4 linked regions of the Homo sapiens genome follow. The protein of the gene in region 2 purifies or fractionates together with the protein of the main gene of each other region. This does not show direct contact. Each region holds a gene or a part of one and is shown on either strand. Other genes may lie near its edges.

Region 1 (7,021 bases), on a different chromosome or scaffold from region 2:
GTAATTTCTGAAGACACAGAAAACATTCTTCCTACCTTCAAGTTGCTGTGATCCAGCCTAAGAGAGGAAACTAAGTAACATGCAGAAAACCCACGACCGGCGTCCCAGGGCCTTCGTGCTTGTCGCTCCCTCTTCATGGAACACCCTTCCCCCACACAGCTGCATGGCTGGCTTCCTTTCTCCTTCAGGTCTTTCCTTGGCTGTCACCTCAGGGAGGTCTCCCTGGTCGCACTCCCTAAAATGTTTACACTCTCCTCTCATTCCCATCTCCCTTCCCTGCTTTACCTTCTTATCCAGCAGTTATTACTGTCTTATATATTACCCAAATGTATATGATATACACAAATATCTAATAATCTCTTATTTGCTCATTGCCTCTCCCTTCTCCCAGAATATAAACTTCCTAAGGGTGCAATTTTCTCTTTTCTTTTTCTTTGTGATACGGGGGTCTTGCTCTGTCACCCAGGCTGGAGAGCAGTACCTAGATCATGGTTCACTGCAGCCTCAAACTCCTGGGCTCAAGTGATCCTCCCACCTCAGTCTCCCAAGTAGCTAGGACTACAGGCGCACGCCATCATGCCTAATTTTTCTGTTTTTTCTGAGACGGAGTCTTGCTCTGTCACCCAGGTTGGAGTGCAGTGGCACAATCTCGGCTCACTGCAACCTCTGCCTCCCGGGTTCAAGCGATTCTCATGCCTCAGCCTCCCGAGTAGCTGTGATTACAGGTGTGCGCCACTGCGTCTGGCTAATTTTTGTATTTTTAGTAGAGACAGAGTTTCACCACGTTGGCCAGACTGGTCTCAAACTCCTGACCTCAGGTGATCCGCCCGCTTCGGCCTCCCAAAGTGCTGGGATTACAGGTGTGAGCCACTGCGCCAGTCGGTGTGCCTGACTTTTAAAATTTTTTTGTAGAGATGAGGTCTCACTATGCTACCCAAACTGGTATTGAACTCTTTACCTCAAGCAGTCCTCCCACCTCAGCCTCCCAAAGTGCTGGGATTATAAGTGAGCCACCACGCCTGGCCTGGGGGCATGATTTTTGACTGTTCTGTTTACAGCTATATTCTCAACACCTAGAACTGCACCTGGCACATAGTAGGTGCTCAATAAAGATTCACTGAATGAATAAATAGTTGATGCCTATTTCAGAGAGGGGACAGACAGGTCCATGTAGCCGGATCAGTGACAATGAGAATGTTGTCAACAACAATGTTGGGTAGCAAGGAGTATCTGGTGGGCCTGGTCCTCAGAGTTCTTAAAATTATGCCACGTGGGTGACCCTTCCCTCTTCTTTTTTTTTCCTCTCCAGAACATTTATTAAGTGCCCACTATGTGTCAAGCACCCAAGTTAGGTCTGGGCCATGCCCAAAGGTCCTGCCCATGGGCAGGATTGACCACAACCCTTACTTGCAGAATAAAGGTGATGCCATCAGCCAGTGTAATGGGAGCATCTGCTCTTAGATTCCAGGCAGGGAGTTGCTGGTCTTTGTGCCTCTGCAGAGCTCCACCTAGAACTGAAAAGGGTGGGGCACGCCTGCCACTACCACACAGGCCCCCTCCAGCCCCAGACCCCTGTCTGAACTGGCAGAAAGTGGGCAACCCTGCCAACTCTCCTGAGGCAGTCATAGAGAACAATTACAAATGCCACATCAGGGGGCCACAGACAGATTAATGGGTTATGTCAAGGATGGCAGTTTTATCTGTTTTGTCTTTAATGTCCATAGTGTAAAAATACTAAACATTAAAAAGCAATCACTCAGTATCTCACCATTGTATTTTTAAAATACAAAGAAAACCATTCAGCAGAGGGTGAGAGCATGTACCCTGGGTAAGCACGAGTGGGCATGAACTGGGGACAGAGGTGAGTCCTGGGGACATATAACTGGATGGAACAGCTGTGCATGTGAGCCTGGTTCTTGCTTGTTCTGACCCGACCCATTTTTCTGTTTTTCCTTTTTTTTTCCAGGCTTTCTCCATATTTACGTGCTTGTAACTCTGGCATGACCTTTGCTCCAGTCTCTACCAGAGGGCGGTGCCTGGATTGAAGTGGAAAAGCCCTGTTTTCCAGCCATGACCCAGGGAGCAAGCACTGACTCCTCAGGGGAACAGGAGACCTGCCAACTAGGACCCTGGGAGCCCCCATGCTGGCAGTGCCCTGGGTCATCTCAGGCTCATCAGCAAATCCTGGGGGGAGAGCGGGGCTGGAGGGCGAAGAAGCCCAGGAGAGTTCCTGGCTCAGAACCCCTCTCTGAGGCTCCCAATACAGAGCCCAGGCCCCACACCCAGGGCCTCTGAGTATTTTTGTTTATTGTATGTAAAATACTAGTGTATTTTTGTTTAAGTCTCACAGGTAAACAGGTTCTCTCATACTTTGCCAAGGGAAATGTGATCTGTGCAATTTGGCAATAACTATCAGAATTTTAAAAGCTTATGCCCTTTGACCTAGTAATTTCACTTCTAAGAATTTCCCCTGCAGAGATATGTATATCTTGTATGAAATGAAGAGGCTACGAAGACAGGCAACGCCGCAGTGTTTATAATAGCGAAGACCAGACACAACCCACATGTCTAAAGGTTCTGATTTTTAAAACTGTAGTATATCTGTACAATGAGCACTCCACATCCTTTAAGAATGAGGAAGGGCTGTGTGAACTGAAATGGAACTATCTCTAAGATTTATTAAGTTAAAAAAATTCAAGAGTAGCACAGTGTGTAGGGTATGCCATCATTTGTATGATATAAGGTCGTATATCTGCCATCTCAAATGAGGAACAGTGGTTGCCTCTGGGAAGGGAATTGGATGGCTAGGAATGGGGTAGGAAAGAGGTTTGCTTTTCAGAACATTTTATACTATTTAAGTTTTGTAACAAGTGCATCTATTTTGACTTAAAAGATAAAAAATGAAAAGGAAAGGCTCCACTAGTGATTCTGATGCTCACAAAGATTAAGAACCAATGCGAATGAGGAACTCATGACACCGCCCAGGAGACAGTGAACATATCTCTTCAAATATCAAAAACCTTTCAGCAGAGGGTGAGAACATGTGCCTGGGGTAAGCATGGGTGGGCATGAGCTGGGTACAGAGGTGATTCCCAGGGACATACAACTACCTTGCCCTCCTGGGATCAGGTCTTCCTCCCACCTTAGCCTCCCATATTGTTGGGACCACAGGCATGCACCACCACACCTGGTTAATTTTTTTTTTTTTTTTTTTTTTGTAGCGACAGAGTCTCGCCATGTTGCCTAGGCTGGTCTCGAACTCCTGGGCTCAGGCAATCCTTCTGCCTCGTCCTTCCAAAGTGCTGAGATTACAGGCATGAGCCACTGCACCCAGCCTGACAGTAGCTTTTAATCTCTGGACTCTCATCACCGTTTGGACTGTGAGCTGTGGTTCTAGCTCTTGGATCTGATGGGCATCTTCCCTCAAATATGTCAGTTTCTCTCTCCAGGTCCCTTGCTTTGTCTTCCTTTTTGCCTCCTCGGGCCTGATACCTTTCTCTGGGCTTCTCTACTCTGCCCCGAGCTGCCTAGTTTTGCGAATAATGTCACATCCAGATGTCAGCAGCCCTGATGTCCATGTGACAATGCTCCCTTGCTGTCCATGTGACAATGCTCCCTTGGTGTCCCAGTGACAGATTTTCCCATGCTTCACCCTCTCTCTTTTTTAATTTTTTTTTCTGTACACAGCTCTCAGTCAAGCCCCTTGAGCTGCCTCCAACTGTTTGCTCATGTCTGTTCCCAGCAATCTTTTCCTCTTTTAGCACAATCTTCCTTAACTTACTAGTTTTTTGAAACAGAGCCTATTAGTCTTCACAGCGCTACCTTTCTGATCTCAGAGTTCACCAAAAAGCTTTTCCTCCCATCATGCCTGCCTCCCTTTCTTCAGGTCCGTTAGAGTCCACCGTGGCCTGTGTGGGAAGCAAGTCTCTCCCAGGGCACACATGAACAGACTTCATGCCCACATCCACAGTGAACAGTGGCTTCTGCCTTCCAGATGGGCTTACCCTAAATCAACACATATTCCTAGGATGTGGGAACATATGCAATACTTAAATGCACAGGCTCTGGGTTCAGACTCCCTAGGGTTAAATTCTCCCTGTGCCGGCTAGCTGCATGATTAGATTTGTGATCTTGACAAAGTTACCTAACGTCTCTGGGCCTCACTTTTCTCATCTGCAAAATAGGGAAAATAGCAACACTTCTCCATAGGGGTGTGGTGAGGATAAAGAGTAGATGTAAATAAAGTGTTGAATGTAGAGCCTGGCACATATCAAGCTCTTAAAAAGCAATGGCCATTTTGTTATTTTTACCGCAACGACAACTGCAGTTATTATCTGGCTTCAGAGCTCTCTTTTTAAAAACAGTATTCCCTGGTTTTACACCCAGGTGCTAATACTATTCTATGAAGCTAATGTATAGAGACCATATCTTTTTAACAAACGTGTATATATGAGTCATTTCCGGCACATTTGATACACATCATCTCGTTTGGTCCTTAAAACAAGCCTAGGCCATAAGCAGGGTACGTGTTACCACTTTGCCATTCCTGTTTTACAGAGGCTTAGACACATTGAGAAGCTTTTCCATAGTCACTTAACAAGTGATGGGTGAAGCCAAATCAAGCCTTTAGATCTCCAAGCTCTTTCCATTAAACCATATAAATCACGGGTTGGCAAACTTTTTCTGCAAAGGGGACAGATAGTAAATAGTTTAAGCCTTATGGGCCACATGCTGTGTCTGTTTCATATTCTGCTCCTTTTTTATTTTTATTTTTTTTAAGAAAAGACACCCTTTAAACATATAAAAACCATTCTGAGCAACAGGCTGGTGCTAAAAACAGGTCATGGTAACCATTGGCTCTAGGGTTGTAGTTTACTGTTGATATAGATTGTACACTGATAAGCCAAAATACAAACCTAATGAAACTGACATACTTAAGGAACTTTACTCTTTGTTAGCAATCATTGTTAATATTTATTGAATGGTGACTACGTGGGAAATGCTGTTCCAAGTGTGATAGATATATTAACTTACTTAATCCTCACACCCACTCTAATTTCCTAAGTACTATTGTCAGACTCATTTTACAGACAGGAAAAGCAAGGCATAGAGAAGGTAAGTAACTTTTCCGAGGTCACATGGCTATTAAGTAGCAGAGCTGTGATTCAAATATAAGCGGTTTGGCACCAGATCCTGTGCACTTAACCGCTTGCATCTCGGTTGGGAGCACTGACTGGTTCAGCTATTGGGAGGGAAGAAAGGGGATGGGGAAGCCACATAACCCCTAGGAGATTCTGTAATAAATATGCTTCAGAGCCATTCACCTTGAAGCTGAGGAGGCATGGAAGCAGGCCACCTGTGTTCTGTACAGCATCACCAGGCTGGAAATCTGCCATGGCTTTCCTTCACGCCATCACAAGAGGATACAGATGAGGCTGCAGAGGCATCTTGATTTGAGAAAAGCATTTGACTGGATCTCATTAAATTTTAATCATTAACTGAATTCAAAATAAATTGAAAACTGGTTGACAGAGCACCAACAAAGGGTGATGATAAATGGTGATGCATCTAGAGGGGAGCTATCTTCCAGGGGACAACTCTAAGGCAAGGACGGATGGGATTTAATGAAGGTGTTATGTCCCCAGAAGAAGACAAATAGCACAGCAAGGAACAGAGGAAGGACAGGAGTGAGCAGCCTGAGTAATTAATAAACCATATTAACAGCTCCTCCATAATCAGGCCTTGGTGATCACAACTGCTTGGATTTTTTCTTAAGCTTTCTTTGAGTCAGGAATAGGTTTGAAGCGTCCTAGAGACACACAGCATGAATATTTCAGGTGGACATTAAAAAGAAATCTATAAATTTACAGCTGGGAGGATCCTGAGATCTACTTCGGATCAGAAACTTTCAATTACAAGATTCCCAAGGCCTTACTTCATTCCCCAGAGAGTAATCTTTTTAATAAATGTCCAAAAGTCATGGATTTAAAAAAAAATCTTTAAACTCATTAATGTCCTTTGTTTCCTGCCCAAATGCATGCAAACTTTCATAACACTGGTTTGCTGAGTGGAAGGTTGGTTTTGAGTGAACTGTTTGGCTCAGATTCAAACTCCAATGAACAAATACTTCCAAGTTTACTTGCTGAATTTCCCATACAGAGAAGTTCTTCCACTGGGCTTGCCAGAGGATTTGAAACAGTGGTGAGCCCTGGAAGGAAGGGAATATTTACTGGCCCTTGGACATAAACCCAGCACAGTAAGACTCACATCAGGCTGAAGGCAGTGCAGTATGAACCGACCTGATTTGAGGAAGTTTGCTCTGGGACTCCTCTGAGCTACTAAATGAGGAGGAGAAGGACTAATGGGAACACACTGACTCCATCACATTAGAAGTTATAATAAACATTTAGAGAACAACCTCAAACCAGCCCATGTTTTTTTTTTTTTTCTGTCGTTGTCATTGTTTTGGTTTTTGTTTTTTTGTTTCTTCAGATAAGATGGTTTCTCTAAGCACATGTGTGATCCCTAATTCAGCCACAGCCACGGAGTGAAGGAGAGGAAGGGGTAGAAAGGAAAAACCAAGAGAGGAAGAGGAAGGGAGAGAAAGGAAGGAAGGAGAACGGAAGAGAAGTAAGGAAAGTGGGGAAACGCTGAAGGATTTTTTTGTATTTGCCTTTTATTGGTGTAGGAGAGACACTTATTTACTTGTAATTTGTATGTAGTGCTGGGTATGAGAAGGGGCAGTTGGAAGAGAAGGGAAAGAATGAATATAGGTGAAAGGTAAGAGTGTCATAGGGTAAGCTGGGAGGCCAGGAAGAGTTTGGACAGACAGCTCAGAGTAGGAAGAGAGTTCAGAGCGGGGAGGGAGACCTGTTGACTCTGGGAAGGGGAAAGGGAAAAAACACTGGCATCCTGACTGCAGGGAAACAATGAGGCAGCGGAGAGCAAGTATCCCTCATTGCTGAGGGAGCTGCCAAGACCCCAGGCAGCCTCAGTCTGTGGGGTGCGGCCTGTGGGGTGC
Region 2 (7,619 bases):
CCAGGTGTGGTGGCACACGCCTGCAGTCCCAGCTACTCCACAGGCTGAGGCAGGAGGACCACTTGAGCCCAGAAGTTGGAGGCTACAAACAGTGAGCTATGATTATGTTACTGCACACCAACCAGCCTGGGTGACAGAACAAGACCCCGTCTAAAAAACAAAAGAGGCCGGGTGCGGTGGCTCACACCTGTAATCCCAGCACTTTGGGAGGCCGAGGAGGCAGATCACAAGGTCAAGAGATCGAGACCATCCTGGCCAACATGGTGAAACCCTGTCTCTACTAAAACTACAAAATTAGCTGGACATGGCAGCAAGTGCCTGAAGCACGTGTAGTCCCAGCTACTCGTGAGGCTGAGGCAAGATAATCACTTGAACCTGGGAGGTGAAGGTTGCAGTGAGCCGAGATCCTGCCACTGCACTCCAGCCTGGTGACAGAGTCAGACTCCATCTCGAAAAAAAAAAAAAAAGAATCTGGATCTGCTAGCCTGGCCAACATGGTGACACCCCATCTCTACTAAAAATACAAAAATTAGCCGGGCATGGTGGTTTATGCCTGTAGTCCCAGCTACTCGTGAGGCTGAGGCAGGAGAATCGCTTGAACCCGGGAGGCAGAGGTTGCAGCGAGCCAAGATCATGCCACTGCACTCCAGCCTGGACAACAGGGCGAGACTCTGTCTCAAAAAAAAAAAAAAAAAAAAAGAATCTGGATCTGATGAAAATTATGGATCTCCTTCCCAGAAAAATGCGTAACCGTGTTCTCACAAAGACACACAATTTCACCTGCAAATTCTGGGGTTCATGAACTCCCCCAGAGCCCATCCCTGATCCCTCAGTAAAGAATCCTGGCTCTGAAGGAATCAGGTCGAGACCCCTTGACATCTGCTAAGGTATTTAATCTTCATTACAACCCCGTGAGACCAGTGCCACCAACTCCATTGTCCAGATGTGGAAACGGGCTTCTACAGGTTACAAAACTTGCCAGGGTTTCCACTGCTGCTGAGTGGCAGTCAGGATTCACATCCAGGTCGGCGTTGTTTCAAAAGAGAAAGACACAATGGAGATTGAAAGGTGTTTGGCGTGGCATCCTGCATGGGACCCCTGAGAGCTGGTTCCACAGTGGAGCCAGAGGGACCGGGTGTATGGGGCCAGCAGGCACCTCAAACATGGAGGAGGGTCTAAGCACCTGTGCCTCCCATCCTCTGTCCTCCCCACAACCTTCTGAGCAGGGAACTATTTATTTTCCTTTTTTTTTGAGATGGAGTCTCGCTCTGTCGCCCAGGCTGGAGTGCTGAGGCCTGGTCTCAGCTCACTGCAACCTCCGCCACTGGGGTTCAAGCAATTCTCCTGCCTCAGCCTCCCATGTAGCTGGGATTACAGGTGCGCACCACCACACTCGGCTAATTTTTGTACTTTTAGTAGAGACGGGGTTTCACCATGTTGGCCAGGCTGGTCTCAAACACCTGACCTCAAGTGCTCCACCCACCTCAGCCTCCCAAAGTGCTGGGATTACAGGCGTGAGCCACCGTGGCGGGCCAGAGCAGGGAACTATTATTGTCATTTTACAGATGGAAGAAAACGGGACTCTGAGAAGCCAGGACCCACCCATGGTCACACAGCCCCATCCCTGGTGGAGCCTTCTGAGCGTAGAGCATGGACCCCTGGGTTTGTGCTGGTGGAAGGGTTTACGGGGCGCCAGTTTAGTCAGCCACCCCTGTGTAGGACACCTATGGAACACCATAGGGGGCCTCTGAGGAGAATCACCTCCTTATTGCCATTGTGTCCCCAGGCCAGTGAACATGACCTGCTCTGCGGCTTTACACAGAATGCTCTGGGCTGAAACACTTCCTTGAAGCGTTGGAATGTGACCAGACATCCTGGCTCCTTGTAAAACCCACTCCCACCAGCTGCAGCCCAATAAGTTAAAGATTATCTTAGTTGGCCGGGCACGGTGGCTAACACCTGTAATCCCAGCACTTTGGGAGGCAGAGACGGGCGGATCACGAGGTTGGGAAATGAGACCATCCTGGCTAACATGGTGAAACCCCGTCTCTACTAAAAATACAAAAAATTAGCCAGGCGTGGCGGCGGGCGCCTGTAGTCCCAGCTACTCGGGAGGCTGAGGCAGGAGAATGGCATGAACCCGGGAGGCGGAGCTTGCAGTGAGCCGAGATCACGCCACTGCACTCCAGCCTGGGGGAAAGCGAGACTCCGTCTCAAAAAAAAAAAAAAAAAAGATTATCTTAGTAGTTAGACATATGCTTTGAGCTTAAAGGAAATTCACATAAACCACCACGGCTATACATCTTTCAAATGACGCGCACACCCCCACCTTCACCGTTTCACCCCGTACCATCTGCTTCTTAGATCAAAAGATTGTACTCAATAAATTATCAGGCAACCAGGGCTCTGCAGCCTTCACTTTAGCAACTGGCCCCCTGGGGCTGCTTTAAATCTTAACTTGTCTTTTCTCATTCCTTTGTTGCCACCGGACTTCATGGTTGGGGGTTGGGACTGATCACCCCAACAGTTTGCATACAGCTCCCTCCAGGCAGGGAATCACGGGACTCAAGCCCCCTCCCCCACCCAGCTGCAGAAGGGACAGGACTTTGTCTCTGCTTCTCCCGAGCTACCAGCGAGAGCAGAAGTCCATGCTGCTCCCCCAACCAGCCTCCCACTTCCGGCCCCCACTGCCCCCAGGAGACGCCACCTCCTCCAGGCCACCCTGCCCTTTTCTAGGGCTTAAGCCCCTTCCTTCCCCAGAGCTCCTTGGGGACTCAACACAGGAGAAAGAAGAGTGAGAAGGGGCCTCTGGGGGTTGAGCAAGGCTGCAGGGACATGGGGTAGGTAAGGGAGTCGATGGCGGGACCAGAGGAGAGATGACTCCAGAGGAGGCAACAAGGGGCTGAGACAAGCCAGGGTGGGGGCAGGGGTAGGCAGTGGGGGGATGGGTGCAGGGACATGGCAGAGAGAGTGTCCCTTTACCTTCAGCGTCCATGGTGACTTGCAGCTGTCTGGGCTGGTGTGTTGGCTGCTCAGGACCAAGGCTCCCAGAGGCCCCAGGCTGGGGGTGGGACTGTGGAGGGAGGGAGGGCCCATCAAGCTGTCAGCCGGCCCTTCCCAGGCTCCCCAAGCCTCCCTCCTGTCCTCTGCCAGGCCTGCAGATTCCTCAGCAGGCCCTGAAAGTCAGAGGAGGGGCTCTGATGGGGAACTCAGAAGCCCTGCCCCAGCCAGTGAAGGAGCCCGAGGCCCTGTTCTCACCCAACACCCAGCCCTCCTGGCCCTAACCCAGGGTCCAAGGCTGTGAATGTAAGCATGTGCTCCCTGGTGAGGGCAGGCAGGCATTTTGGATGGTGTGCTGGGAAAATCATGGGCCCTGGACCTGGGTTCAAATCCTAACTCCATCCTTTTTGATCTCAAGTACCTTTTTACCTTTTTCTGTGCCTCAGTTTCCTTAGCTTTAAAATGGCATAACAGGGCCGGGCACAGGAGCTCACGCCTGTAATCCCAGCACTTTGGGAGGCAGAGGCAGGTTGATCACCTGAGGTCAGGAGTTTGAGACCAGCCTGGCCAACATGGCGAAACCCCATCTCTACTAAAAATACAAAAATTAGCCGGGCATGGTGGCGGCCGCCTGTAATCCCAGCTGCTCAGGAGGCTGAGGCATGAGACTCACTTGAACCCCGGAGGTGGAGGTTGCAGTGAGTCGAGATCATGCCACTGCACTCCAGCCTGGGTGACAGAGTGAGACTCTGTCTCAAGATAAATAAATAAATTTATTAATTAATTTAAAAAACGGCATAACAGGCCGGATGCAGTGGTTCACGACTGTAATCCCAGCACTTTGGGAGGCTGAGGCAGGCAGATCACGAGGTCAGGAGATCGAGACCATCCCAGCTAACATGGTGAAACCCCGTCTCTACTAAAAAACCAAAAAATTAGCCGGGTGTGGTGGTGGGCGCCTGTAGTCCCAGCTACTCGGGAGGCTGAGGCAGGAGAATGGTGTGAACCCGGGAGGTGGAGCTTGCAGTGAGCCAAGATCATGCCACTGTACTCCTGGGCGACAGAGCGAGACTCTGTCTCAAAAAACAAAACAAAACAAAAAAACCCGGCATAACAGGCTGGGCACAGCGACTCATGCCTGTAATCCCTGTGCTTTGGGAGGCCAAGGCAGGAGAATCGCTTGAGGCCAGGAGTTTGAGACCAGTGTGGGCATCATAGAGACATACAGAGATCCCATCTCTCCCAAAAAAAGAAAAAAGAAAAAGAAATTAGCTAAGTACAGTGGTGCACACCTGTAGGCTGAGATGGGAGGATCACTTGAGCCCAGGAGTTCAAAGCTGCAGTGAGCCGTGATCGTGCCACTGCAGTCCAGCCTGAGTGACAGAGAGAGACCCTGTCTCTAAAGAAAAAAAAAATGTAATGGCATAACATCTACCTCATGGGTCCAACTGAGAATCAATGAGAAAACTCTGCAAATGAAACAGAGTAGGAACTCACCTAATATCCACTTCCCTTCCCTTCCCTCTTTCCAAGGAACTTTAAGGGCACAGACAGCTTAGAGCCCAGCTTCTGAACCAGAAAGTGGGGAAACCACCAGTCACCGGGACTGGGACTTCAGGCAAGTTCCTGTCCAAGAACTGCCAGGGCCTTTCTTTCTTCCTTTTTTTTTTTTTTTTGATGGAGTTTCGCTCTTGTTGCCGAGGCTGGAGCGCAATGGCGTGATCTCGACTCACTGCAACCTCCGCTTCCCGGGGTCAAGCGATTCTCCTGCCTCAGCCTCCCGAATAGCTGGGATTACAGGCATGCGCCACCACACCCGGCTAATTTTGTATTTTTTTTCAGTAGAGACGGGGTTTCTCTATGTTGGTCAGGCTAGTCTTGAGCTCCCGACCTCAGGTGATCCACCCGCCTCTGCCTCCCAAAGAGCTGGGATTACAGGCATGAGCCACCGCGCCTGGCCCAGGGCCTTCCTTTCTTCATTGGAAACCCTTCTTGCTACAGTTGCTCACAGGGACTGCTAGTCGCTAAATTCACTTGCATCTTCCCAGCCTTCTCCCTTTGCTTTCTCTGCCGCACCTGACTGCCGGGACTGGGGCTGGCGTGACGGATCGAGACACCCAAGGCACAAAATTTAGGGAGGCCTCATCCTCCAGCTCACTTTTTTTTTTTTTTTTTTTTTTGAGACAGGGTCTTGCTCTGTCACCCAGGCTGGAGTGCAGTGGCACAATCTTGGCCCACTACAACCTCCACGCCCCAGGCTCAAGTGATCCTCCTACCTCAGCCTCCTGAGTAGCTGGAACCACAGGCGTCTGCCACCATGCCCAGCTAATTTGTGTATTTTTAGTAGAGAAGGGGTTTCACCGTGTTGGCCAGGCTGGAGTCGGGCTCGCTTATCACCCCAGCACCTTGCTGGCCTTGATTCAGTCCTGGGCCTGTTTCTGAGGCTGCAGTGAGCTATGCAGTGAGCTTTTTTTTTCTTTAGAGACAGGATCTCCAAATGTCATTTTTCTCCTGGTTAATTTTTTTTTTTTTGGATACAGGGTTTTGCTCTGTCACTCAGGCTTAAGTGGAGTGCAGTGGCCCAATCAAAGCTCACTGCAGCCTCAAACTCCTGGCCCCAAGCCTCCTGAGTTGCTGGGACTGTATGTGCATGCCTCCACCCTAGGCTAATTTTTTATTTTTATTTTTTGTACAGATAGGATCTTGCTATGCTGCCCAGGCTGGTCTCAAACTCCTGGCTTCAGGTGATCCTCTTAAAGGCTCTTTTCTATCTTTTGCAGGTGCTTCTTCCTACATCCAACCCTCAGATTTTGGTGTTGCTTCAGTGTGGCAGAGACTGTTTCCCTTTTCCTTCTGGGTACCCTACTAAACTACATTTCCCAGCTTCCTCTGCACTGAGGCAGTCTTGTTCTGGCCAATGGAGTGTGAGCAAAAGATATTTCCAGACCTGACCCTAGAAGTCTTCACAGGATCCTATTCTGCCTCTCCCCTCCCATTAGCTGGTCAAAAGCAGACCACTCCAAGGCCCTAGGAGGATGACAGAGCCACTAGATGGAAGGAGACTGGGTCCCGGAATAATGTTGTGAAAGGTCATGCTCCAGATGTCAGGAATTGACTGTCATAAGAAGGAAAAAACTTCTTTTGAGTTATACCGCTGAGATGTGGGGGCACTGTTTCTTACAGCAGTTAGCCTGCCCTGACTATTACACTCAGATTCTCTCTACAGCTCTCTTCTCAATCTACCCAGTGAATGATATAATTTATGTATCTATCTATCTGTATCACTATTTATTTATTTATTTATTTATTTATTTTTATTTTTATTTTTTGAGAGGGAGTCTCACTCTGTCACCCAGGCTGGAATCCAGTGGTACAATCTCGGCTAACTGCAACCTCCACCTCCCGGGTTCAAGTGATTCTCCTGCCTTAGCCTCCCAAGTAGCTGGGATTACAGGCGCATGCCACCATGCCCAGCTAGTTTTTGTTATTTTTGGTAGAGATGGGGTTTCGCCATGTTGTTCAGGCTGGTCTCGAACTCCTGACCTCAAGTGATACACCCACCCTAGCCTCCCAAAGTGCTGGGATTACAGCCTTGAGCCACTGCATCCAGCCGACTCTTAAATCTATATCTTCTATCCTGAGTTCCCTCTCAAGCTCCAGGCCTCTATTCTGTTTTTGTTTTTGTTTTTGAAACAGGGTCTCACTGTGTCACCCAGGCTAGCGTGCATTGGCATGATCACAGCACAAAGCAGCCTCAACCTATAGGGCTGAAGTGATTCTCCTGCCTCACCCTCCTGAGTAGCTGGGACTACAGGTGAATGCCACCACGCCCATCGAACTTTTTTATTTTTAATAGGGACAGGGTTTCGCCATGTTTAAAGGCTGAAGCAATTCTCCTGCCTCGGCCTCCCAAAGTGCTGGGATTACAGGTGTGAGCCACTGCACTTGGCCAATAAATCTATTTCAAACCCAACCTCTTTCACCTTCCAGACTGCCACTGTATCCAGCGTGGGCTAGAATAATATTATCATTTCACACTTCCTCAGAACATCCTCCTGGATGACCAGGTCAACTCAAAGGACAGAACTGGGCCAGGCACTGTGGCTTGTGCCTGTAATCCCAACAGTTTGGGAGGCTGAGGCAGGAGGATCACTTGAGGCCAGGAGTTTGAGACCAGCCTGGGCAACAGAAATTTGTTTATGAAAATAAACAAATAAGGCCAGGCGCGGTGGCTCATACCTGTAATCCCAGCACTTTGGAAGACCAAGGCAGGCAGATCACCTGAGGTCGCGAGTTCGAGACCAGCCTGGCCAACATGTTGAAACCTCGTCTCTACTAAAAATAGAAAATTAGCCGGGCGTGGTGGCGCGCATGCCTGTAATCCCAGCTACTTGGGAGGCTGAGACAGGAGAATTGCTTGAACCTGGGAGGCAGAGGTTGCAATGAGCCAAGATCGCACCACTGCGCTACAGCCTGGGTGTCAGAAGCAAGACTCTGTCTCAAAAATAAATAAATAAATAAAACTATTCTTTGTGCATGAATTTATTCATCCCTCCATTCAGTAAACATATACTAGGTAGCTACCGCATGCTGGGCCCTGGGCTCTGGAAACACAAAGA
Region 3 (7,868 bases), on a different chromosome or scaffold from region 2:
AGCTTGACCAACATGGTGAAACCCCGTCTCTACCAAAATACAAAACTTAGGTGGGTGTGGTGGTGTGCACCTGTAATCCCAGCTACTTGGGAGGCTGAGGCAGGAGGATTGCTTGAACCCAGAAGGCAAAAGTTTCAGTGAGCTGAGATCACGCCACTGCACTCCAGCCTGGGTGACGGAGTGAGACTGTCTCAAAAAAGAAAAAAAGAGCCGGGCAGGGTAGCTCAAGCCTGTAATCCCAGCACTTTGGGAGGCCGAGGTGGGCAGATCACAAGGCCAAGAGCTCAAGACCATCCTGGCCAACCAACATGGTGAAACCCCGTCTCTACTAAAAATACAAAAATTAGCTGGGCATAGCGGCACACGCCTGTAGTCCCAGCTCCTCGGGAGGCTGAGGCAGGAGAGTCACTTGAACCCGGCAGGTGGAGGTTGCAGTGAGCCAAGATCGTGCCACTGCACTCCAGCCTCGTCAACAGAGTGAGACTCCATCTCAAAAAAAAAAAAAAAAAAAAAAAAAAGAATAATTCATGTTATCAAAGAAAAACAAGTTACAAAAAATGCTTTGCACTACTGCTGCTCTGATGCTCTATAAGAACTCTGAGTTCTCAGGAAATTCAACACTCTTTAGGTATAAGTTCACTTATTGAATGTGCTTACTTAAATGCAAAACTTTGTGCTACAGAAAGAGTCCTGGACATGGGAATTAATGCAAGCAATCTTCAATTAATTGAAAATTTTAGAACTATTAATTGCAGAAGAAACAAACTTAGTATACAGTTATTCATTACAAAAAGTTAGTTTCTAAAATTCCTCAATGCAAACATGCCAGCTTTTGTATTCTATAAAACAGAAAAAACTGCCAGGTGCAGTGGCTCAAGTCTTTAATCCCAGCACTTTGGGAGGCCAAGACGGGCAGATCACTTGAGGTCAGGAGTTCGAGACTAGCCTGGTCAACATAGTGTAAACCAGTCTCTATTGAAAAAACACAAAAATGAGCCATGTGTGGTGGCGCGTGCCTGTAATTCCAGCTACTCAGGAGGCTGAGGCAGGAGAATCACTTGAACCCTGGAGGTGGAGGTTGCAGTGAGCTCTCGTGCCACTGCACTCCAGCCTAGGCGACAGAGCGAGATTCAAACAGAAAAAAATTGTAAAACCTGTGATGAAAACATTAAAACATGTTATTTGCAAAGAAAACTGCAGGAAACACGCATATAAAACACAAATAGCAAGACACTTTGATAAGAAAAAACCTACTTTAGAATGTATTAATTCAGCCAAAATTACGGAATTTATGGAAGAAACTCCATATGTGCTTTCTACCTACGTAAAATCACTTTTGAACTAAATCTGAGTTAACAAATAAAATCTCTCTATTCCCAGTTACATTGTTTTTCAGTATGTAACCACTGTCTTGATACTAAACAAATATCTTATATAAAAATAAAATCTGTATACTTCAACTAGGGTCCTTTCGTCTAATTTGCTGCTGTGAATAAGAGCACCATCCTGTCCAGATAAGGTTAGATCAAATTTAAAAAAAAAAAAAGCACCATTCTGCTGGGCATGGTAGACCAGCCTGGGCGACACAGTGAGACCCCATGTCAATTAAAAAAAAAAAAAAGAGCACCAACCCCAACTATGGCAGAGCTGCTAAAGGAGTCTCTTGTGGAGACTTGAACCACAAGCCAAGGAGGCAAAGGTACAAAGTCTCTCCTGGAATTAGTTCCTGGACTTCTGTGCAGCCTTCCCTCTTTCTACTATGTCTTCACCGTTCCCCTACAAACAGCTTTCTTCTTCTTGCATCTCTTATATGCTGTGGCCTTTGATGCTACAATAGATTTAAAAATTTTCCCAACAGAGCTTTTCTGCCTGAAACCCACCAGGAAAGATTTCAGGACATTCTTTAATAACTAATCTTGTTCAAAGAGGCAGGCCTCCTTCGTTTCACTTAATTCAAACCCCCACTGTTCAAAATAAGAATATAATTATAACCTCAATTTCTATCGGGCCAGTATAGGAAAAGAACTACAACAGGCTCTCTCTTCCACGTTATGTCCAGACTTTTTTCCTTAGTTTCTCCTTCCTCATTTCCCTCCTCAATCCCTCCTCCCCCAAAAAATAATTCCACAGCTAGAGAATGTCGTTTTTAAAGCCAGAAATTCAGTGAGGAAAATAAGTATGTGCCTTTTTCTTCAATTATTTATGATTCCTCCGTCACTCAGGAAGAGTTAAGCTAGTATTTTTTAATCTGACCGCTCTCTCAGAAGGATGATGCGCTAAATACACACTGAAAGAATAGTGTTCCCAAAGCAAGTGGATTCGCGGCTAAAGGCAACGCGGTGGGAGTGGGGGGTCCGGGAAGAAGAAAAAGTATCCTTGGCCCCCAGAGCCAGAGATGGGACAGGAGGTGAAAGAAGGGGCCGTCACTGAGAAGTACAACACACACACTCGCCAGAACTAACAATCTGCCAAGAAAATAGGACCGGCCACTGCGGCTCCAGCCCGGTCCCGCGGGACAAGGCGGGGGAGGGGGGCCGGCGGCCGGGGGGCCTGCCCTCCTTCTGTGGGACAAAACTAACTCCCTGGCGCACCTCCGCTCCCGAGAAGAGGGGCCTGGTGGGGACGCGGGCTCCTCGCACCTCCAGCGCAGCACTTGCTCACGGCCTGGGTGGAAGCAAGGCCCGGAGGGAGGGGGGAGTCGGGCTGGGCAACGCCAAGAGCACGGGATGGAGGGTCAGACGCGGGCACCCAAGGCACTGGGGGCCGCGACAAGAGACCCTTCCAGCCCGGGAACCCCGGGGCCCCTCTCCACCCTTGCAGAGCAGGACCCCGAATATCGTCCCCAGCCGCACCGACCGCTCCTCACCTCAAGCTGCCTGAGCCTCCGCCTCTACCACAACCTGAGCCGCCGAAGCCGCCACAGTCCGAGCCATTTTTCCCCTCAGCTGGCTCAGCCGCCGCCGAAAGCTTCGGCCGACTCCACAGCCAGCCAAGCGCAGCACGTCACTTCCGGACAGGGAAGCACCGCCTTCCCCGCCCGGACTTGTTGCGAATTGGCTGGCGCGGACGGCCTACCTGAGCTGGCGGGCGGGGCTTGGACGCTGCCGGGGTGGCGTGAGCAAGGGAGCTGGGGCGCTGGGGCGCACGGGCCCGGGGGACCAGGGTCTGGCTCTCTCCCGAGGAATGCTGAGCAGGCTCTGGACGCCTCTCCGTGCACACCCCAGACCTGGGGAGGGGAGCTCTCCGGACACCCCAGCTGGCCGCCCCTCGGGCCCTGAGTCCGAAGACCCGCTAAACAGGGCCCGGGCACTGAAGTACCCTATTGTTCTCATCCCCTCTCCCGGGACCCCGCACCCTCCTCCATCTAGGCTGAGGTTCCCAGATTTGTGTCTTGGCCCCTGGCGGCGCCGAGATTACTTTGTGATTGGAAGACTGAAAGGAACAGGCAAGACTTAAACTCGTCCACTCCAACCAGTATTTACCGAGGCCTCACGGTGGGTCAGGTGGTATACGGTGGGTAATTAGTAGCCTATCACGTGGTTTCTGTAAAATGCTTGATAGCACGTAAAACGCTTTCAGGTCGGCGTCTCGTTTCATCCTCACAACAGCCAGGTAAGGAAGATAACCCCCTGATAATAACTCACAGCCAGACGGCTCTTTCTACATTACAAAGTATTTTCACATGCAACCTCCATAATAATATATTCTTATTGAGAATTTAATGAGATTATGCTTGTAAAGCGTTTGGTCCTCACGTGTTAGATCTAAAAATTACGTAACCATGGGAAGATATAGGAAAATTATCCCCATTTACAGATGGGGCTTCTGGGGCACAAAGATGTTAAGGGGAGAGGAACGATTCCATAGCGTTTTACAACAAGATTGTCTTTTAAGCAGTAGGAGAAGGGGGTCCACACCATCCAGACGTTCACAATCTGATGTGGCAGACTGATTTAGGCTGCATTTCTCAGCCTAAACTAAAAATTATCAGCCTATATGATATACGCATAATTAGAAGGCTCTAAGAGAAGTTGAACTTTCAGCAAATAACTGGAAAGAAAGAAATTGGCCTGATTTGGCAGGGACGGGGGTTGGCGAAAGGGGGCTAGGGCAATGGGGAATGTGGAGTGGATGAATCCCTCATAGCGCTGTAATAAACATGCCTGCACCTCCGCAGGGATGGTAAAATTGGATGGAGTTTCTATTCTATGGGGAATTCTAGAAACAAATGTGATTATTTCTTACGGCTGTAGCTACTGGCTGTTGTACACCCCCCCCCCTTCCAACTCCTATCTTTCCCCCAACCCCGCCCCTCCTCTATGCACACACACTTCCAGGCAGGCTACACACTCTAGAAGAATGTCCCTTAGAAATCAACTTAGTTCCGCAGCATTGTTCTGCTTTATCTTCTGATCAAAGGAGGAATTTCTAAAATTGGCAGCAGCTCTTTCACAAGATTAAAAAGGGTGGGGAAAGTGATTTATCTCAGGGTAGCTTCCTAGCTTCTGCTCCAGATCTGAGTGTGCCTTCAGGAAAGAAGGAAGAGGCCTTGGGAGAACACTGAGTCTTCAGGAAAGAGTAACTATTTGTCTGTCTTTTTTTTTTCTTTTGTTTTCTTTCTTTCTTTCTTTCTTTCTTTCTTTCTTTCTTTTTCTTTCTTTCTTTTTCTTTCTCTTTCTTTATTCCTCTCTCCCTCTCTCTCTTTCTTCCTTTCTTTTTTTTTGATCCAGCGAGACAGACTGGATTTTTTCTTCTAATTTTTTTTTTTAATGAAACGTATTTCCCCTGAGTCTCAGCAGCAGAGGGCCCTGGTCCTTGAGTCACTTCCTTGTTGCAGTTCTGAATTCATTATTTTATTATAGCTTTTGAATGACTGATACATGGTAGGCTCTGATCAACCAAAAGGTTCCCAATAAGGTGAAGAGAAAGAAAAGGAGTTTGATAGTTTTCCAGATTCCAAAAAAATTAGCTTTCACAAGTTGCCAGGTGTCAAGAATCTGAACAGGTAACCCTCTCTCAGCATATCTCATCTGTCAGCAATGGCTTGTGAAGATGCATGTGTAAACAGTAGGAACACAGACTTCTGGGAGACAGTACAAACTGGTGCTGCTGTCATTTGGAACCAACTAGAACATAGCTGGCAACCATTTCTCCTGTTTCCTTTCTTCCACTGGCTTCACTTTTTTTTTTTTTTTTTTTGAGACAGAGTCTCATACTTGTTGCCCAGGCTGGAGTGCAATGGTGTGCTCTCGGCTCACCACAACCTCCGCCTCTCTTGGTTCAAGGGATTCTTCTGCCTCAGCCTCCTGAGTAGCTGGGATTACAGTCATGTGCCACCACACCCAGCTAATTTTTGTATTTTTAGTAGAGACAGAGTTTCTCCGTGTTGGTCAGGCTGGTCTCGAACTCCCGACCTCAAGTGATCTGCCTGCCTAGGCCTCCCAAAGTGCTGGGATTACAGGCAGAGGCCTTACATTTTTCACTGTTTCAATCCTAACTTCCCACAGACAACTTCCCAGTACCACAAATATTCCCCAGCTTCTTCCAGTACCACATGAGAAATGGGCAATCTTTTTTTTTTAACCACAGATAAAATATAGTGGATAACAATGATTAGCATTTGCTAAGGCCAAGCCCTGTTCTTAGTGTTTTATGAGTATTATCTCATTGACTTCCTCCAACAACCTTCCTGAAAGATATAATTATTATATCCTAATTTTATAGCTGAGAAATTTGAGGAACAGAGAGGAGAGTAACTTGCCCAATGTCACACAGCTACTAAAGAGCAGAGCTGGGATCCAAAACTGGGTCTGACTGCACAACCCATGCTTTTTTAACCTCACAGTTCCGCCAGCGGGCCAAGATTTTAACATCTACGAAATGCTGTTAAGAAGTATAATAGTTAGGTTTTTATTTCCTTTCTCAATGTTATATCCCCACCTGAGTAGAAGGACTCTGCTGGGTACTATACCAAACTACCTACCTATTTATTTATTTATTTATGTTTTTTTGAGACAGACTCTCACTCTGTTGCCTAGGCTAGAGTGCAGTGGCGCAATCTCTGCTCACTACAACCTCCATCTCCTGGGTTCAAACCTCCAGAGTAGCTGGGATTACAGGTGCACACCACCACACCTGGCTAATTTTTTGCACTTTTAGTAGAGACAGAGTTTCACCATATTGACCAGGCTGGTCTGGAACTCTTGGCCTCAAGCGATCCTCCCATCTCAACTTCCCAAAGTGCTGGGATTACAGGCATGAGCCACCGGGCCCAATTATTTAATCCTGATTATGTAAGCAGTTTGAAGGAAAACTACAGTGTTCTTTGATTTAGAATAGAAGGCAGGAAGGCCTTCCCTGAAAAAGTGACACTGAGCTGAGATCCAAAGGATAAATAGAAATTGAGGATGGGGGAAAGCATACCCAGCAGAGGGAACAGTGTGTGCAAAGGCTCTGAGAAAGGAGCATGGCTCAGCTGAGGAACTGAGAGGCCAGTGTTGTTGTTATACTGAGAAGAAGAAGGAAGTATCTTTATTCAAAAAAAAATTTTTTTCTAGACACGGGGTGTCACTATGTAGCCCAGGCTAGTCCCAAACTCCTGGCCTCAAGCAATCCTCCCACCTAGCCTCCCAAAGTGCTAGGATTATAGGTGTAAGCCACTGTGCCTGGCCAGAAGCATGTTAGGTACTATAGTGAGACAGGAAGATAATGCCAGGCCTGGGAGGCTGTATTAAGAATTTAGGTCTTTATCTTAAGAATGAAGAGAAAGATTTTAAGCCTTCAAGTGATCAGAGTTGCATTTTTGAAAGATTTCATAAAGCTAGGAGGAGAAAGAATTAGAAGGGTCTAGGGGATTTGGGTAGCCCAGTCTGGAGTTTATTGCAACTGTGTAGGGAAGTGATGATGGTGGCTTGAACCTTGGATAAGACACAATAAGTGTGTGGCTCACGCCTGTAATCCTAACACTTTGGGAGGCCGAAGCGGGTGGATCACCTGAGGTCAGGAGTTCAAGACCAGCCTGGCCAACATGGTGAAACCCCATCTCTACTAAAAATACAAAATTAGCCAGTCATGGTGGTGCGTGCCTGTAATCCCAGCAACTTAGGAGACTGAGGCAGGAGAATCACTTGAACCCAGGAGGTGGAAGTTGCAGTGAGCCAAGATCGTGCCATTGCACTCCAGCCTAGGCAAAAAGAGCGAAACTCCATCTAAAAAAAAAAAAGACACAATAAATGTGAAGTTGACTGAGCTAGGGTTCCTGGCCTTGGAGACAGTCCAGTAGGGGAGAGCAACTTAGAAATAAAAATAGTATATTGTGCTATGAGCACTACTAGAGGTAAACCCAAATAACTCTGGAAGCTCGGAGAAAAGATAGAGGGAAGATGGAAAATGTATTAGTTATCTATTGCTGCATATCAAATTACCCCAGCATTTAGCAGCTTAAAGTAAAAATGATAAACATTTACTAGATCACAGTTTCTGTGGGACAGGCATGTTGGCATGGCATAGGTGAGTGTTTCTGATTTAAGATCTCCCACAAGATTGCAGTCAAGCTGTCAGCTGCCAATCCCATCTGAGGGCTTGAATGGGGGGAGATCCACTTCCAAGTTCACTCATGTGGTTGTTAGAAGGCCTTGATCTCTCCCTACATAGGCAGCCCTCTCCCCAGGGCTTCCTCACAACATGGCCACTGACGTTCCGCAACGTGAGTGACCAAGAAAGAGAGCAAGAGAACCAAGAGTATGTGAGAGAAAGCACCCATGGAAAGAAGCCACAGTCTTTTTGTAACCTAATCTCAGAAATGGTCTTATCACTTCTGCCATACTCTATTTATTAGAAGTGAGTCAATAAATTCAGTCCACATTCAA
Region 4 (7,021 bases), on a different chromosome or scaffold from region 2:
CAAGTAGGCCTTGGGTACAAGGATATGAAAAATAAGCTTTAAAAATTTATTTGGATATATAGTTTCTATATTCTAAGTGTACATATGGGTTTATAGACATATATATATTCACACATATATGAATATGTATACATATATATTTTTTAAGCTCTTATCTAAAGTGGTTTTTAAGTGATGTGAAGTTTAACCTCAGCATCAAAGTATATTCTAAAATATAAAACAACTATTTTTTATCATTCTACATTTTTTATTTACATCAACTGTATCACCCATTACATATTTGATAAAGAGGTTATGCCTCAGTAATTCTGAAGCTGAAGGCTTAAAATCTCAGCCCAGTGACTCTGGAGAATCACGTGTTAGTTAAAGGGAAAGCGGCGGCCTCACATGCTGCGTAAGTTTCATTCTCAGGCATCCTTTCTGAGGGACCTACTTTTACTGGAGATCATTCTGCTAAATAAGGTAACATCTAGCCTCAATGGCAGTCATGTTAGTTAACCCCCTAAACCTTCAAAAATATGTTTAAAATTATGTTAAGCTAAATAAAGAAAAAAGGAAAAAAAACTTAAGAATTCTGTCTGTAATAATTTCTCTATATTGCAAATAATAACCTAGGTATGCATAAATAAAGTAAATTATTGTTCCAAGAAATCTTTATTGAGAACTGAGAAAAGATTTTGTACAATAACCCTAGTATTGCAAATATTGTAAATATTTTTACAAATACAGAGATATAAATAAGAAAGGGAAGAGATACAGTTGGCCCGCCTAGGGCTAAAAGTGTTACCTGTCCAGATTATGTAATCCACGGAGTAGGCTTCAGGTGTTCAGAAACGGCAACTCTTGATATTTTAGTGTCAGGTAAAAGCAGGTACATAGAAACCCAAGAACTAGAGTATCAATATAAAACACATGAGCATATAAATACATGGGCATAAAAATAAATGTATATGTTTATCCATAAATCCCAAAGCTTTGGTTGACCCTTAGTTTATCTAAAAAAAAAAAACAAAAAAAAACAAAAAACACACGAGCTTATAGCCCACACCACTGGTTCCCGTGACTGGAAATCTACCTTATATTTTTCAGCAAGCACCGTGTGGTTGCTCATCCTCCAGATGCTGTAGCATTTTAACGAAGACACCCTTTAGCCATTCTTGTTTTGACAAGGAAAAGTAGGAGTCCATTTAATGTTTTGGGCTCTATAATATCACATGTAAAAATTTTAATTCACTATGATCATTCCATGAGCTAGAACCCTTTTATTTTTAAAAATAACATGAGGTGTCACTGGAATTTTGCCTTCTGGGATTCAACGCTTATATCCAAAAAGGGCTTTGTTCTTTTTTGTTTTTGTTTTTAAGTGTATAAAAGGGGGAGTTTGGGCCTTTTATTTAAAGTAAAAGTAAATTCCTAACTAAGAAAATGTATAGTTTGTGCCTGAACTAGTAGCCTTCATTCCTAATTGTTGTGTGATAGCAGTAGTTTTTAATCTCTTCTCTTCTTGTATTTGTTAGCTCATTACTTTTTTCTCACCTTCTTCCCTCTCCCTCTGCCCACCCATGCCCCACCTCCACATGCTGCTTCTGGGTACTAGAAGTCCAGCTCCTCCACCACTACTGGGGAGAAGATCACGAAGGTGTACGAGCTGGGGAATGAGCCAGAGAGAAAGCTCTGGGTCGACCGATACCTCACCTTCATGGAAGAGAGAGGCTCTCCTGTCTCAAGTCTGCCTGCCGTGGGCAAGAAGCCCCTGGACCTGTTCCGACTCTACGTCTGCGTCAAAGAGATCGGGGGTTTGGCCCAGGTAAGAATGAGTGAGGGAGGGGGTGAAAAAGGAAGCATTGTGGATAAGTTCTTACAGTGGCTTTCTTTGAATGTGTGGACTCATTTTTTTTCTCACAAAGGAAAAGCTAAGCCTGTGTGAAAGTCGCCTTCTTGCAACCCACGTCTGTGTGCTGTCAGGGAGCACTGGGGGACCCTGGCTCTGCCACCAACTCGCAGCGTGACCTCAGCAGGTCATGTTCTTGGACCTCAGTTTCGTCATGTATACAGCGGGCCAGACTAGATTTTCCTGTAGGTTTTCTTACAGCTCCAGAATTCTCTGGAATCTGCCAGTAGTTCATAGTAAATACTCAGAAATGTTTTACAAATGACTGAATTAATTATCTGTGTCAGATATAAGTCACATTTACTGCTTCCCTCTATCCAGAACAGGTTAGCAGGAAAATTAAGTGATACTTGTCAAACCATGCCCACAATAACTGGACAGTTAGGAGGGCCATTGCTGTGACCTCCAGCGGGCTAGGCCTGAGGTGTGACAGGGGAGCTGCCTGGGGTGCAGATTTAAGGAGCTATCCACTGTGTGCTTGCTTGACTCTCAGAGTGAGTGCGTCCTGAAGTCTCATACCCCAGGCACCGGCTTTCCTCACTGTAGCCCTCGCTCCTTAATCAGGAGTCTAGTTGTAGGACCACGCCCTGTCATAGGAACAGGGAAAAGGTACTCACTGTGTAACCTTTGTCTTTCTAAATACATGAGTCACCAGCCCCAAAGCATAGATGAGAAAACTCCTGTGTAACAAAATCAAGTACAGGATGGGGTGCAGTGGCTTACACCTGTAATCCCAGCACTTTGGGAAGCCAAGGCAGGAGGATCACTTGAGGCCAGGAGTTGCAGACTAGCCTGGGGACCCCAGTAAGACTTTGTCTCCATTAAAAACTACAAAACTTAGCCGGGCGTGGTGATGCACACCTACAGTCCCAGCTGTTCAGGAGGCTGAGGTGGGAGGATCACTTGAGCCCAGGAGTTCAAGGTTACAGTAAGCTTTGATCACACTACTATACTCCAGCCTGGTTGACAGAGCAAGACCCTGTCTCAATAAAAAATAATATATTTTTTAAAAAATAGAATAATGCTGTAGCCCAGGGACACTCACAGGGTAGTTGGTGGGGCCAGGTCTGTCTGACTCCAGACACATACTCTTCCCATTTGCCACTGGTTCTGGAGTCCAGCTATGCATTAGAATGGCCTGGGCAGCTTTTCAAAGCTGTCAGTACCTGGGCTACCACCCGACATCAATGAAATGAAACCTTCTGTGCCCAAGGTAATCTAACAGGCAGTCAGAATCAGGCGCCCTGCGCCCCACCAAGGTGGCGGGGGTCACTAACTATCCAAGGGCAAGTCATCTGCCCTGCAGGTGTCACTGACGGCCTACCGTGGTCTCAGTGCTGCGTCTCGGGGGAGAAAGGGGAGGCCTTCTTTGTGCTTAGCCTTCCCACTAGGTGCCTAATCCATTCCATGGGGGAACTGAGACCTGTGACAGAAAGAATTAGAGCTTGCCCATGACGCTGCATAACCAGCTGCTAAGTCGTGTGATACCACGTGTGAGTGATGGTCAGCAAAGAGAATGATTGAGACACGCCTCTCTCTGACCTGGACTCCCTGACCTTTCCCCTCTGCACCTGGGCTCCTTTGCCTTCTGCCCCTGGACTCCCCTGACCTTTCTCCCCTGCACCTAGCCTCTTCTGACATGGATTTTTTAGAATCACCAAGACTGCTCAAACGATTAGATTTTATCAGCCAGCACAGAGTAGATAGTGTCTGGCTACTTCCTTACTGTGACTGTGTCCACAGTATATATAACCAGGCTGGGTCTGTCATGAGACTCTCCGCGGGCTTATAATGAGGGTTGCTGGAATGTAGCTGGGTTGCATCTTTGTCCCCACCCCATCATGCTGTGTACCTTGTGGGCATCAGATGTGGTTGGGAGCAGGTGCTGCCACCACACAAAGCTCAGCTCCCAGCCTTCCTTCTTAGGTCACACTGAGCAGCGCCCAGCTTGCCATTTCTGAAGTAACCTGAAGACCCACAGTTTGCAGCCCTGCATTCAGTGCCAAAAGAGGGCGGTGGGCATCTCCGGGAGCATCCACAATTTATTATACACCACCGAGTACTAAGTAAATGGACAGAAGAGCCGTGTGAGAAAGTTTGAACCCAGAAATTTAATATTTCATTAAAAACCACTGTCCCCTTACCTCCTCCCTTGCCACACAACGCAGGAGACATCAAAAGGCAAAACCTTCCCCAAGTTATTTGCAAATCCTCATGTTTCATCCATGTGTTTAACCGTTTAACCTTTCATAACCTGTTCCCAAGTGGGAATCAAAAGGTTAAAATAATGCCTCGGATCTTGACGTCACATTTCAGGAGTTCTCTTTCTTTCTCCTCCTTTTGCGACTGTGTTGTCTCCAGCCCTTTAAGCCTCCTTGAGTAAGAGCACCGCACAGGAAGGTGTGCACCTGCCCCGTCAGCAGGGCTGGTGGCCAGTGGCATCGCATCATGCTTTTTAAGTTGGGGGCCGTTGGTCCAGGGGCTCATTTGCCTTTGCACGAGGTGCTGCTTTTGCTTTTGCCTGACACCCCAAGCAGTCTTGGGGTGAGGGGATGGGTACGGCCCAGAATCACAGGCCCACTTCTGAGGGCTTGCAGCTGCTGGAATGAGCACTTTCACATCAGTGCCCAAAAACCTAACTTGGAAAATAGTGCCGTTGTTGCTTTTTAAATGTTTTGAGATGCCCTTTTTCCTTAATTGGAGGTGCAGTGGGATGAGCGTGAGGCGTTGGGAGATGTGGCGGGCAGAAGGACCTCCGAGCAGTGCTTTTTCTGTTGCCATCAGCAGGTTCCCTAATGGTTTTATAACTGTAAATGCTGCCTATGCACTGCTGAGTGGGAGTAATGAGCATTAGTTAAAAGAGGCAAATGAAGAAAAGTCAACCAAGACATTAAGTGCTTTTTTTGTCTCCTGGCTTTAAACAAGCCACTTTGTTGCAAACCAATGATCCTGCCGTGTTTTTCACTAGGTTAATAAAAACAAGAAGTGGCGTGAGCTGGCAACCAACCTAAACGTTGGCACCTCAAGCAGTGCAGCGAGCTCCCTGAAAAAGCAGTATATTCAGTACCTGTTTGCCTTTGAGTGCAAGATCGAACGTGGGGAGGAGCCCCCGCCGGAAGTCTTCAGCACCGGGGACACCAAAAAGCAGCCCAAGCTCCAGCCGCCATCTCCTGGTAAGTGGCGGCGCTGCAGTCACTGGCCCAGGAAAGCCCAGGCGCCTGGCCTGGGAGGTTCCGGGAAGGTGGTTTCACAGTCAGGCCAACAGGGAACTTGGGACTTTTGAGAGGTGGGGGGTTCCTGTGTCGTTTTGTTTATTTAATTGGACGCCCACTGGCAGTGTTAAGGGATGAGAGAATTAAATCTGGGATATGGCCATTTCTGGTTGACACTTGGAAGGCACCCCTTCTTTTGCTTTACCTTAATCAAAACAGGCTTTCGAATTCTAAGCCATATACGTTTATTGCTTATACAAGTATTCAAAAAGATTCCATCTACCTCTACACAAAATAAAGATCCCCCAGTGGCCAGTTTGAATACATGTGCACTTCTAGGAAATGCCACCCTACAGGTTCGACAGCTCGAGCTCCCCCGCCCTCTTTCGGAAATCCTCAGATTTGAACTTTAGTAAAATGAAGCCTGGGCTTCGTTTCTAATGTCCCCTACCCAGCAAGTTCTCACTTCTAGGGAATTTAACAAGCTGTCGTGGTAAGGATCCACACGGCCTTGTTTTGGAAACAGGTGGTCTTTTGCAGCCTTGTTCTGGAAGTCAGGGGTCTTAGGAATGGGTGCAGCGCTGGCCACCAACACGCTCGCAGGCCGAGCCACATCAGTGACGCCTGCTGGCTCCCTTCCCTCTCCTCCCCACTGACAGAGACCCTCCCATTCCTTTCAGCTCCCCTGCCAGCCTTCGTTCTACCGTTTGGCTTTCAGATTTGAAATGACAAAATCATATATTCTGATAAATGCAATAGTAGAGAGGGGAAGAAATTGGCACCTTAGTGCTGGGTGGTGACCTTACTCCAGTAGATCCGACCATTCTCTTATCTGTGTCTGCCTCGCAGTCAGCGACCTTCAGCACATTAGCCTCACTGTTCCTGGTCCCTGTCTATGAGATGTGGCTGCACCCACCGCTCCTGTACACAGCTTGTTCTGAGCGTGGCTGGCAGCCCATGTTTCCTGAGCACTTCCAGTGTGCTGGGCCCTTTTCTAAGTGCTATCATTTCATTTTCACATCAGCCCTGTGACATTGATACTATTTTAAAATCCATGAGAAAATGAAGGTCTCGTGGAATCTAAGTACTTGCCCAAAGCCAACTAGCTGGGGAGTAGAAGGTCTTATCTGGGGCATCTGGTGCTACAGTATACACGATACCCACCAGACACCTCTGGCTGTATTGAAAATACCTTTGTAATATGTGAAATGTTTACACATAGAAGCCAGAGAAAGAGGTCATTTCATTTTTAATGATTTCCTCTAGCTGCTGTCTGGATGGCAAAGCTGATATCCAAGGTTGCTAATCAAGGGATCTCACATAAATACGTTTTAGGCCCAAAGTGCACTTGTAGTGAATATACCTAGAATTACATCTGTAGGCTCTAAAAACAAGTAGAAATCCTCGCTAACCTCATCCTTAAAGATTCAAAGGCTTTACCAACTCAGGTGTCCCTTAAAAACTGGGAAATCTAATTTTAAAAATCTCACAACATTACATCCAGTTCACAGAGTAAAACAAGCTGCCTGTGAACAGCTCTGAAACTATTTTTCCAAAATAAAAACCCAGTGGGGCGTAGGGACCAAAGTGGTGATGTCTGTAAAGATCTAAGGGTACATTTTATTTGCCAGGAAAGAACTCGTGTCACTGAATGGGCTGCACTTGTGTATGGAGAATAGCTCTCCCAGTGTGCATCAGCTTCAGGACGGGGGCCCTGCTGAGGCGTATAGATCCTTCAGAAAGTGGAGGGCCTGTTCTCTTAACAGCCAGCCGTTCCCTTTTCCCCTTTTTTAAACTGTCATTTTTATGGCAACATTATCATTTTAACTACACAAAAGAGCTTGGATTGCAAATGGACTCCTGGTATACATTCTTCTCAGTAGTCCAGATGGAGCCGAGGGCCTGTGACACAGGAGGC

What was found.
Region 1: the proteins of QPRT (region 2) and TRAF3IP2 purify together in Homo sapiens (affinity purification with mass spectrometry; 4 studies listed by BioGRID and IntAct, with this or other methods). This does not show direct contact.
Region 3: the proteins of QPRT (region 2) and PIK3C2A purify together in Homo sapiens (affinity purification with mass spectrometry; 4 studies listed by BioGRID and IntAct, with this or other methods). This does not show direct contact.
Region 4: the proteins of QPRT (region 2) and ARID1B purify together in Homo sapiens (affinity purification with mass spectrometry; 4 studies listed by BioGRID and IntAct, with this or other methods). This does not show direct contact.

The regions. Positions count from the first base shown.
Region 1 is NC_000006.12:111,595,872-111,602,892, forward strand, and holds part of TRAF3IP2 (E3 ubiquitin ligase TRAF3IP2), read right to left. Parts: intron 6,425-7,021; exon of another isoform or gene 5,344-6,424; coding exon of another isoform or gene 5,325-5,343; exon of another isoform or gene 1,967-5,324; intron 1-1,966. UniProt on the Homo sapiens protein: E3 ubiquitin ligase that catalyzes 'Lys-63'-linked polyubiquitination of target protein, enhancing protein-protein interaction and cell signaling. Transfers ubiquitin from E2 ubiquitin-conjugating enzyme UBE2V1-UBE2N to substrate protein.
Region 2 is NC_000016.10:29,674,574-29,682,192, reverse strand, and holds the start of QPRT (nicotinate-nucleotide pyrophosphorylase [carboxylating]), read right to left. Parts: upstream 2,996-7,619; coding exon 2,983-2,995; intron 1-2,982. UniProt on the Homo sapiens protein: Involved in the catabolism of quinolinic acid (QA).
Region 3 is NC_000011.10:17,204,982-17,212,849, forward strand, and holds the start of PIK3C2A (phosphatidylinositol 4-phosphate 3-kinase C2 domain-containing subunit alpha), read right to left. Parts: upstream 3,006-7,868; 5' UTR 2,867-3,005; intron 1-2,866.
Region 4 is NC_000006.12:157,179,372-157,186,392, forward strand, and holds part of ARID1B (AT-rich interactive domain-containing protein 1B), read left to right. Parts: intron 1-1,597; coding exon 1,598-1,807; intron 1,808-4,859; coding exon 4,860-5,064; intron 5,065-7,021. UniProt on the Homo sapiens protein: Involved in transcriptional activation and repression of select genes by chromatin remodeling (alteration of DNA-nucleosome topology).